Homo sapiens: one gene and its partners. The protein of the gene in region 3 purifies or fractionates together with the protein of the main gene of each other region. This does not show direct contact. Each region holds a gene or a part of one and is shown on either strand. Other genes may lie near its edges. The genes, in order: STK40, COPS7B and DET1.

Region 1 (3,825 bases), on a different chromosome or scaffold from region 3:
CTTCTATCTCTTTTGCCAAGTAGGTGGCAGTGTGTAAACATATTTAGAGGGGACAGCTTTATTCTGCATGCCAAGACCCCTTCTCAGTTTTTCTACCTCTGGTGCTTTCCAACAACTAGAGTTCCTTTGAAACCGTCAGGCCTGTAGACTGCTAAGTTCTGGGGAGCCTGAACTCACACCCAAGACTGACTGTCATGGCCAGGAGAGAATGAACACCGTTGGGTTGTAGCCTCTTTTTTTTTTTTTTTTGAAACGGAGTCTCGCTCTCTCACCCAGGCTGGAGGGCAGTCACTGCAAGCTCCGCCTCCTGGGTTCACGCCATTCCCTGCCTCAGCCTCCCGAGTAGCTGGGACTACAGGTGCCCACCACCACGTCCGGCTAATTTTTTGTATTTTTAGTAGATACAGGGTTTTACCGTGTTAGCCAGGATGGTCTTGATCTCCTGACCTCGTGATCTGCCTGCCTCGGCCTCCTAAAGTGCTGGGATTACAGGTGTGAGCCACCGCGCCCGGCCTGGGTTGTAGCCTCTTTAGGGAGTGGGAACACCTGTGTTCCCCTCAGGACGTACGACCTCAACCCAAAAGAACAGATTCACTTGCTGGGGGAAAAATAAGGCTGCCCCAATTTATTAAAAGGAGACCTAGAAATTCTTTAACAATAATAATAATAAAGGATAGTCTTTGAGGCAGCAATTCACTTCTAGAAATTTATCCTGCAGATGATACCTAAGGTGGGCAAAATCATATGTATGAAGAAAGTCACTTCAGCAGAAGTGTTTAGAGAGTAGAATGCAGAAAATAACCCAAGTGTTTGTTAGCAGAGAGCTTGTTGAATAAATTACACTCACAGTGGGACACATCATAGCCACAAATGACCCAGACCTGCATGTGCCAAAGTGGAACTATCTCTAAGATAGTAAGTAAATCACAGCAAGCAATTGCATCCTTTCCCCTCTAGGATCTTGATTACAGAGCCTGGGAGGATATGCGGGGGCTGCTGTGGGCCCTCGACTACCTTCGAGGTCAGAGTCTCACCTGAGCAGGTGGAGGAGAAAGAAGTGCTCTTGTTTCAGATCATTTTCTCGTTTACTTTCTTTACACCACAAACCCAAGGACAAATCATGTAAAAAAATCTCCCAAATTCCAAAGGGCCTGTTTGAAGGCCCGCCCACCAGCACACCCCTCACTATAGTCCAATCCAGCTGAGGGACAGCTTCTGGCTCCCTTAGAACTTCAAGGGTCAAGGACACTGGGCAGCTTTCTCTCCCTTCCCTGAAGGTTCTGAGCAAGTCCTGGGTGGCCTCTGGCAGATATCAGTCCTTCCTGAGAAGAAGGACTGAATCTGCTGAGCCAGCTTCAGGCAGCAAATCCAATTTCCAGACCTCTCTCTAGATAAGATCTCCAGGGGGCACTGAGAAAGCCTCTCTCCCCTGAGGGTCTCTGCTGTTCAGGACCCCATCAGTGGGCTGTAGTATGCTGAATCGGGGTGGATATTGCCAGAGGGAAGGGTTGCTCTTAGGGCTATTGGAAGGCTGAAGATTTATCGCTTTATAGATGTGAAACATGAAGAGGTTCACCTCCCTGGTTAAATCTGGGCAGAGGAAAGGTGAAGGAAGGAAAGCTGCCCTTCTCCCAGGTGCTGATTCAGGCGAAAGCAAAGGGAAGCCTGGCCCAAGTCCAGACAGGGGTCTACAAGACCTTCCAACTGATCCTCTCCCGAGAGGGTGTGCCCAGGGTTTACTGAACGAAGCTGGCAGATTTCACTGGCCATTATCTTCTCCTTGAGCCATCCCTATCTCTGCACTATCATTCACTCTGTCACCCAAACCAAGGACCTCAAGGTTACCTGTCACCATTCCTCCTCCCTCTGGCATCACTTCCAAACACTCCCAGAGTCCAGTTGATTTCCCCCCAAACAGCTCATCTCTGCTCTTCTTCTCAACCCTATTGCCTCTGCCCTGATCCAAGCCCCTCTCAGCCCTTGCTGGGATTACTGCAACAGCCTCCTATGGGGACTCCAACCTCTCCCCAACCCACTCCATCCTCCAAAGCAGATGCAGGTCTAATGGTATGTTTCCTCCACTTAATGCAAGGCATCCATCACCAACAGAATACAAAATTCAAGCATCTGCGCCCTAGTGCCTGCCTACCTCTCAGGCACATCCTGCAGTCAGTCCCTTCACACTCTGGGCTAGAACTCCTGTGGTTCCTAAAGTGCCACACAAATTACCACATATCCGTGCTTGTGCCAGGCTGCTCCCCCTGCCTGGAGGGCTTCATAGACCCCCAGAAAACTCTATTCATTCTTCACGATCCAATTCAAGTTCTTTTTTTGAGACAGGGTCTCACTCTGTTGTCCAGGCTCGAGTGCAGTGGTGTGATTACAGCTTACTGGGAGTTGGGAACTCCCAGGTTCAAGTGATCCTCCCACTTCAGCCTTCCAAGTAGCTGGAACTACAGGTACATGCCACCACGCTTAACTAATTTTTTTCTTTTTTAATTTTTGTAGAGATGGGGTCCCACTATGTTGGCCAGGCTGGTCTTCAATTTCTGGGCTCAAGCGATCCTCCTGCCTCGGCCTCCCAAAGTGTTGGGATTACAGGTGTGAGCTGCTGTGCCCAGTCCCAGTTCAAGTTCTAAGGGCTCTCTGAAGTTCTCCCCAGTCTCCTCCTCATCCTAGAGCTCGATCACTTCTTCCACTGGGTTCCCCCACATGCTATAGACTTCTGTGAGAGACTTGCCAAACTGTGCACATGTTAACTGGTTAGGAGCCTGCCCCTAGATCACAACCTCCTCCATGGTAGGGCCTGCCTCTCCATCCTCCTCCTGCCCCCAGGACCCAGCAGAGCCCCAGCCACACATGGGAGCTCATGTATGTGGAATCAGGGCTCTGTATTTTGAGCTACCACACTCATCAGTGTGTGTGATGCCTCTTGATGCTGCTTATTCAGGTACCAGACTAGGGTTGCTAGCAGGGACACACAGAGAAGAAATTCTAAATACATTTACTCCCATGTATACTTTTTTTTTTTTGAGACAGGGTCTCACTGTGTCACCTAAACTGGAATGCAGTGGTGCAATCTCGGCTCACTGCACCCTTGATCTCCTGGGCTCAAGAGATCCTTCCACCTCAGCCTCCCTAGTAGCTGGGACTACAGGTGCGTATGACCATGCCCAGCTAATTTTTGTATTTTTTGTAGAGACGGGTTTCGCCATGTTGCCCAGACTGGTCTTGAACTCCTAGGCTCAAGCGATCTGCCCATCTCGGCCTCCCAAAGTGCAGGGATTACAGGCGTTAGCCACCGCGCCTGGCCAACCCATGTATACTTTAAAGTACTATTTTTTTCTCAGCAGTCCTACTTCTATTTTTAAAAATAGTTCTTTTAAAGAGCCAAACTGAATCATCTGCATGGCTCCCATACAGACTGGGTAAACTCCCCTTAGATTTTCTTTTCAGAAAGAATAAAATAAAACTCTGTGATCTTGTGATCCCTCAGGACACTTCTGACAGCTCAATGGGACATAGTTCTAGTTGCCATGAATTGCTGCAACTAATTCCTAAAAGTTCTTTCCTGTAGCCTGTAATAAGAGCTAACATTTACTACTCAGTGTCTGTTAAGTACTCATCCTGTAACATCTTACTTACTCCTCACAACTGCCCTATTACGAAGGTACTCTTATTGTCCCCATTTTACAGATGAGAAAGCTGTGGTGGAGAGAATAAGTAATCCCTAGTGACCAGCAGGGATAGAAGTAGAACACAGATCTGTCTGATGGCAGAGCCAAATAAGCTTTTTTTTTGAGACAGAGTTTCGCTCTTGTTGCC
Region 2 (3,825 bases), on a different chromosome or scaffold from region 3:
CATAAAAACTTTGGGAATACAGCTCCATGAACCTTCTTGAATAAACCAGTAGAGGATGAACTTCAGCCAACTAAGTGAGAAATGAAGAAAATGTAATAGAAGTACTGGCAAAATGCTATGACACTACCGTGTGCAGTATAGCTTTCTTTCACTTAACAAAATACAGACTCGTAAATACTTAAGCAGCTCTTGAACATTTTACCACGTCAGAACAGATATCCTCTGTGACACTTGAACCCTATTCTATTAGGAAGGTTCTCCAGTTTTCCAGTTTTTTGAATTGGTTCCTAGTTTGGGTTTCAGTGCTACTCTGAACAGCCCTTTATGTTTACCTTTGCATACTTCTGTGAACATCTATGGAAGATACTCCTAGAAGTGAGCTTTCCAGATCAAAGTCGATTTACATTTTACATTTGAATCAGTACTGCTATATTGCCTGCTGAAAAGTGACTATTCCAAACCTTTGCTCCTCAGTTCGTTGAGAGGAAGAAACAGCAGGAAGAGGATGGTGGTGGTAGGGAAGAACAGTGCAGTCAAATAAGTAATAGCTTTTTTAGTCTTTTTTTTTTTTTTTTTTGGAGACAGAGTCTTACTCTGTTGTACAGGATGGAGTATAGTGGCACAATCACAGCTCACTGCAGCCTCAACTGCCCAGGCTTAAGTGATCCTCCCACCTCAGCCTCCTGAGCAGCTTGGACCACAGGCGCTTGCCACCATGCCTGGCTAATTTTTAAAAACTTATTTGTAGAGACAAGGTTTCACCACGTTGTCCAGGCTGTTTTCAAACTCCCAGGGTCAACTGACCCTCCTACCTTGGCCTCCCAAAGTGCTGGGATTACAGGCATGAGCCACCACACCCAGCCAGTTTTCTACATAGTGAAAAGGAGTTGTCAGGGTCAAAAGTTCTCAACAGTCAGAATATTATGAGCTTGAGGGTAAGAGACAGTCCAAATGCAAAGACAAAACAATGCTATGAGGGTGAGACAAAAATTGGGTTCCTGGAGGAGAGCCATCATCTGCAGAATCCACCTTAACTAGATCATAAATTGTTTTTTGTTGTCACTATTTTGAGACAGGGGGAAAAGCCATGCCCTAAACTTCTGTAACCTCAATCAACGCTGTAGCCTTTCTGAAGAGAGAATGACAGAGGACTGTGGGCTGGAACAGTCATTACAGAGGGCAGGCTGGGCATGGTGGCTCACACCTATACTTCTAGCACTTTGGGAGGCTGAGCAAAGAGAATTGCTCAAGAGCAGGTGTTCAAGACCAGCCTGGGCAACATAGTGGGACCCTGTCTTTCTTAAAAAAAAAAAAAAAAATTTTAGCCAGGTATGGTGGCATGCACCTGTAGTCCCAGCTACTCAAGTGGCTGAGGCAGGAGGATCGCTTAAGCCCAAGAGGTAGAGGCTACAGTGAGCCATGTCTGCACCACTGCACTCCAGCCTAGATGACATTCAAGTAAGACCTTATCTCAACAAAAAGACATAAAAGAAAAAAACATGTGCCTGGTGTGGTGGCACATGCCTATAGTCCTAGCTATTCAGGAGGCTGAGGCAGGAGGATCACTTAAGTCCAGGAGTTTGAGGCTGCAGTGAACTATGATTACACCACTGATTCCAGCCTGGGTGACACAGCAAGACCCAGTGCCTGGAAATATATAAATATATATATATATATATATATAAAATTTAAAAAAAAATATATATATATATATATAATAAACAGGGAGGGGAATTCAACTCTGGGTTTATCCAGTGTCCTGCCAGACAACAAAACACAATCTGGGAACCCCAGAACCCTGAGGCATCTCGCCCTCCCAGCGGCTCACTGCCACTTTGGTGTACCTCATTCAGTGAGTCACCTGGCAAGGTGGTGAGTGAATGATCTGGAGCAAGCCAATGGCTTATCACTCTTTCTCTGATAAAAGAAATATTATTTGTTTTAAGACTTTTTTTAAAAAATAGAAATGGGATCTTGCTATGTTGCCCAGGCTGGTCTCAAACTTCTGGCATGAACCAATTTGCCTGCCTCAGCCTCCTAAGTAGCTGGGACTACAGACACATACTATCATGCCCAGCTAAGGCATATTTTGATGACATTGGAGGAAAAATTAAGAAATTTGACTTCTCAGGGAACACTGCTTTATAAAATAACATTCTAAGGCTTCTCCAATTTGATATATTTTCTAAATATCCAGAAGAAAATGAACTAAAATCATAATAAGAGGTAACGACATGACTTTAGTTTATTTATTTGCATGTCAGTTACCTCTAACTTCCAAAGAAGATCCTGCAATTTAACATTACCTGAGGGAATGTGTTTTAAAGTCTCCCCAAAAGCTGACAAAATTTTAATCAAATAAGACATTAGAAAACAAACAAGTTTTTGTTTCAAGGACTGTATTTCCAAAATGGGGTATCTTTCCAAGCAAATAATTACCTTTCCCATTTGGCAAAATAGCTTTATTAAAAATTAAAAAAACAAAACCAAAAAAAATTCCTAATTTCATCTTGTCTGATAAGCACTATTTAGCCTTATTTCCTCAAGTTATTTGTGTAATAATTTTTACTAAACAATCAGCTTAGGCCAGGCACAGTGGCTCACGCCTGTAATCCCAGCACTTTGGGAGGCTGAGGCAGGCAGATCACGAGGTCAGGAGATCGAGACCATCCTGGCTAACGCGGTGAAACCCCATCTCTACTAAAAATATAAAAAGTTAGCCGGGTGACGTGGCGGGCACCTGTAGTCCCAGCTACTCGGGACGCTGAGGCAGGAGAATGGCGTGAACCCGGGAGGCAGAGCTTGCAGTGAGCCAAGATCGCGCCACTGCACTCCTGCCTGGGCTACAGAGCCAGACTCTGTCTCAAAAAAAAAAAAAAAAATCAGCTTATACTACAAATAGTTTTCTACATTATTTAACATGTCTTAGATTTACTGACAGTCTCATAACCCCTGCATGAGTAAGGAAAAGGCATTAATCAATCCCCAAATAATGGTTATATTTTCAATCCGCTTCACCTATGTTTTTGTAGCATAAAGTCATTATCAGCCTATCAGAAAGTGACAACCGGCATTTATTTCTCTCTTTAGAGTGGCCCAAGGTGATTTGGGCCGGCTTTGGACTCAGAGTATCTATGGCTGGGCTGAGTGATGAGTCCCTGACCTGCCAGCCAAGGAGCAAACTCTGCCTGTGGCACATCCACCAACGGCAACGCTCCGCTGCCAGCCTCTCAGCAACTGACCAGTTCAACTGACTCCCAAGGCTTTGCTGTTTTACTCTTTTTCTTTTCAAAGCTCAACACTTCCAATGCTTCTCCTTCACAGAGCCACAAACTCATGGTTCTCACTCTGGTCCTGAGGGAGCCCGCGCATCATCCTTCTGCAGTCACAGAAGGGCTGACCCTCTGCTTCATTTCTGTACTGCCACTCCCTACCATAACGCAGCCTCCCTCTCTCATGGTGACTCAATTCTATTTAAAAGCCTTTGAGATTCAAGATCCTGTCAAAAGCTTTTGAACAAATAAGTAGACAGAAGCATGGACACTTTCCCCTGTTATTCAGATGCCTATTTACTTCCTCAAGCCATTTTCTCCTGTAGAAACTGCTCTCATTCAGCTTTTTTAGGGGCTCAGTAACCCTGACATGCAATAAAAAGAAATAAGACTTGGCCCAGGGAAAAACTTGGTTTTTTCTCTAGTTCTGAAATACCAAGATCAGGTACCTTCCTTCCCACTCCTCAACACATGCCCTGCACTCAAGCCATCTCAGCCACACTCGTCCCCCACACCACACTTGGAAGCAGTCATTCCCCCTATGCCCTTCTGT
Region 3 (3,600 bases):
CGTGTATTTGCAAACACCACTTGGAGGGCCGGTACCTCTAAGGAAGTCTCCTTTGCAGTTGATTTTATGTATACTGTTCCCAAAGCCAGCCTGTACCCACGAAGAGCAACACAATCTGCTTGTCCCAAAAGCAGGAAGTGTCGACCTTGTAGCAGGATTTGGGTGCTCTGGGAGCCAAACTGGATGTGTGGAAGTGCCAAAGGTGCAGAAAAAGAACTCCAAAATGTTGACTTTTACCTCTGTCCTGGGAATCACCCTGACGCTAGCTGTCGAGATACTTATCAGTTTTTCTGCCCTGATTGGACATGTGTAAACTTAGCCACCTACTCTGGGGGATCAACCAGATCTTCATTCGGTAACTCGTGCTTCTCATCCTAAATTATGTACTAAAAAAAAAATTGTAATCCTCTTACAATAATATTACGGCATGTCATGGAAATTAACATTTTATATTCCAGGATTTGATGTTGGGACTATGTTCACCATCCAAAATAAATAAATAAATAATAGAAATAAAAATCCTGGTCTCATGGAGCCCACCCAAGCCAATCGGGCCTTTAACTGCTCTAGGTGACCCTATGTTCCAGAAACCCCCTGACAAAGTTGATTTAACTGTTCCTCCACCATTCTTAGTCATAAAAGATACCCTCCAAAAAGTTCGAGAATATCTAGATAGGCAACAACAGGAACGAGAAAATAACATCCCCTGGTATCAAAACATGTTCCACTGGAACCCCTGGCTAACTACTTTAATCACTGGGTTAGCTGGACCTCTCCTCATCATACTATTAAGTTTAATTTTTAGGCCTTGTATATTAAATTGGTTTCTTAATTTTGTAAAACAATGCATAGCTTCTGTCAAACTTATGTATCTTAAGACTCCCCTTGTTAAAACTGAGGAATCAATGATTTGATTCCCCAAAAACACAAGTGGGGAATGTAATGCCCAACCTGGTTTTTACTAACTCTGTTTTTAGACTCTCCCTTAGCTAAGAGAGCCAGACAGACTCCATCTTGGCTCTTTCACTGGCAGCCCCTTCCTCAAGGACTTAACTTGTGCAAGCTGACTCCCAGCACATCCAAGAATGCAATTAACTGATAAGATACTGTGGCAAGCTATATCCACAGTCCCCAAGAATTCATCTGATTGATAACACCCAAAGCCCCACGTCTATCACCTTGTAATAGTCATAAAGCCCCTGCACCTGGAACTGTTTACTTTCCTGTAACCATTTATCCTTTTAACTTTTTGACTACCTAACTTCTGTAAAATTGTTTTAACTAGACCCCCCCTCCCCTTCCTAAACCAAGGTATAAAAGTTAATCAAGCCCCTTCCTCAGGGCCGAGAGAATTTTGAGCGTTAGCGGTCTCTCGGTCACCGGCTAATAAAGGACTCTTAATTCGTCTCAAAGTGTGGCGTTTTCTCTAACACCCCTGGGTACAACACACTAACTCACTGTGTGGTACTAAGTCCTTTACCCTTGCTGGGTCTCAGTTTCCCTATGGGAGAAGGTGCACATGTCCCTCAATTCCTTGCGACGGCCTCTAAACCAGAAGGGGATGCCAAGGGGCGGGCACACATACCCAAAAGGGCGCCCCCGGAAAGAAAAGCCTGGGGCGGGGCCTCAAAGGGAAGAGAATGCTGAGGGAGGGCGGGGGCCGCGGGGCCTCTGGGCATCAGCGTCATGCAGGGAGGAGCCTGCCGGGGAGGGTCTGACGGGCTTGGAGGCTGGGCCAAAAATGGTAAGTCCTCACCTGTCTGGTCCGGGCTCAAAGAGCCAGGGCGAGGGATGCCCCAGCCTGTTCTGTGCGCGCCTCCCCCTGCCCCGCCCCCGCCATGCCCCAGGACTCCTGCACCCGCGGCTGCACGTTCCCGTTTCCGCCAGCCACCGGAACTGCGGCCCAGCAAAAAGGGAAGTAGGGGAGAGCACGGCACTGTTCAGCCAACACTAAGAGACAGGTACAGCGCACCCTTGTGCCCGGAGGAAGGATCGAAGCCGTAGAGGCTCCATGGCTCCGAAGGAAAAATTAAAATGGCACCTAACCTGGCAATCTCTGTGAGTCCCAATGGCAGTGTCTCTGCACCTGCTGGGCACATTTGAAAAAATATGAATAGAATTAATTTTTCACCTATTGATTAGATGCTGAGAAACTTCCTACTCTGTTATCTTCTAGATGGCGAGCACCTTGAAGACTGAGATTGTATTGATCATCTCTGACTAACAGGGAATTTGCCTTGCTAGTTTTAAGATGGAGTTGATTTTAAAATGATGTCACTCTGGCTCTCGTAGGCTCCTGCTTCCCTAACAAAAAGACCTTCAACATCATTAATTATCAGAGAAATGCAAATCAAAACAATGAGATACTACTTCATACCCCTTAGGATGGCTATAATATCTTTAAAAGGAAGATATCACATACTGGTGAGGAGGTGGAGAAATCAAAAGCCTCATACACTGCTGCTGGGATGGGTGCAGTCACTTTCATGGGCGTCCGTGTGAAGAGACCACCAAACAGGCTTTGTGTGAGCAATAAAGCTGTTTATTTCACCTGGGTGCAGGTGGGCTGAGTCCGAAAAGAGAGTCAGCGAAGGGAGATAAGGGTGGGGCTGTTTTATAGGATTTGGGTAGGTAAAGGAAAATTACAGTCAAAGGGGGCTTGTTCTCTCACGGGCAGGAGTGGGGGTCGCAAGGTGCTCAGTGGGGGTGCTTTTTGAGCCAGAATGAGCTAGGAAAAGGACTTTTACAAGGTAATGTCATCACTTAAGGCAAGGACCGGTCATTTACACTTCTTTTGTGGTGGAATGTCATCAGTTAAGGTGGGGCAGGGCATACTCACTTCTTTTGTGATTCTTCACTTATTTCAGGCCATCTGGGCTTATATGTGCAAGTCACAAGGGATGCGATGGCTTGGCTTGGGCTCAAAGGCCTGACATTCCTGCCTTCTTATATTAATAAGAAAAATAAAAATAGTGTTGAAGTGTTGGGGCGGCAAAAATTTTTGGGGGGTGGTATGGAGAGAGAATGAGCGATGTTTCTCAGGGCTGCCTCAAGCGGGATTAGGGGTGGCGTGGGAACCTAGAGTGGGAGAGATTAAGCTGAAGGGAGGTCTTGTGGTAAGGGGTGATATTGTGGGGATGTTAGAAGAAACATTTGTCATATAGAATGATTGGTGATGGCCTGGATATGGTTTTGGATGAATTGAGAAACCAAATGGAATAACAAAAGGAGAAAAACAGGTATAAAAGGTCTAAGAATTGGGATGACTCAGGATATCTGATTAGAGAGTGCCTAAGGAGATTCAGCATAGTCCTGCCAGCAAAGATTATTTATTTACTTCAAGAGTTAAGAGTGGCAGTTTGTGGATAGCACCTGGAGATATCAGCTGTGATGGCTTAGAAAAACAATGTAAACAAGAGCAGGGCAGTGTAAACAAGAGCAGGGCATGTATGAGTAGTTGAGAACGGTGAATAGGAGTATGACTAGACAGAAGATAGCAGGGATGACAAGTTTTTTTGGGGCACAGTCTAAGTTGGTCTGGTGTCTGGAATAAGACTGGGGCCTAATAAAAAGGAGCATCTATACAGGAGCTTAAATGGG

Evidence for each region.
Region 1: the proteins of DET1 (region 3) and STK40 purify together in Homo sapiens (affinity purification with mass spectrometry; 2 studies listed by BioGRID and IntAct, with this or other methods). This does not show direct contact.
Region 2: the proteins of DET1 (region 3) and COPS7B purify together in Homo sapiens (affinity purification with mass spectrometry; 2 studies listed by BioGRID and IntAct, with this or other methods). This does not show direct contact.

Annotation. Positions count from the first base shown.
Region 1 is NC_000001.11:36,379,166-36,382,990, forward strand, and holds part of STK40 (serine/threonine-protein kinase 40), read right to left. Parts: intron 1-3,825. UniProt on the Homo sapiens protein: May be a negative regulator of NF-kappa-B and p53-mediated gene transcription.
Region 2 is NC_000002.12:231,803,306-231,807,130, reverse strand, and holds part of COPS7B (COP9 signalosome complex subunit 7b), read right to left. Parts: intron 1-3,825. UniProt on the Homo sapiens protein: Component of the COP9 signalosome complex (CSN), a complex involved in various cellular and developmental processes.
Region 3 is NC_000015.10:88,544,784-88,548,383, forward strand, and holds the start of DET1 (DET1 homolog), read right to left. Parts: upstream 1,899-3,600; 5' UTR 1,757-1,898; intron 1,593-1,756; exon of another isoform or gene 1,481-1,592; intron 1-1,480. UniProt on the Homo sapiens protein: Component of the E3 ubiquitin ligase DCX DET1-COP1 complex, which is required for ubiquitination and subsequent degradation of target proteins. The complex is involved in JUN ubiquitination and degradation.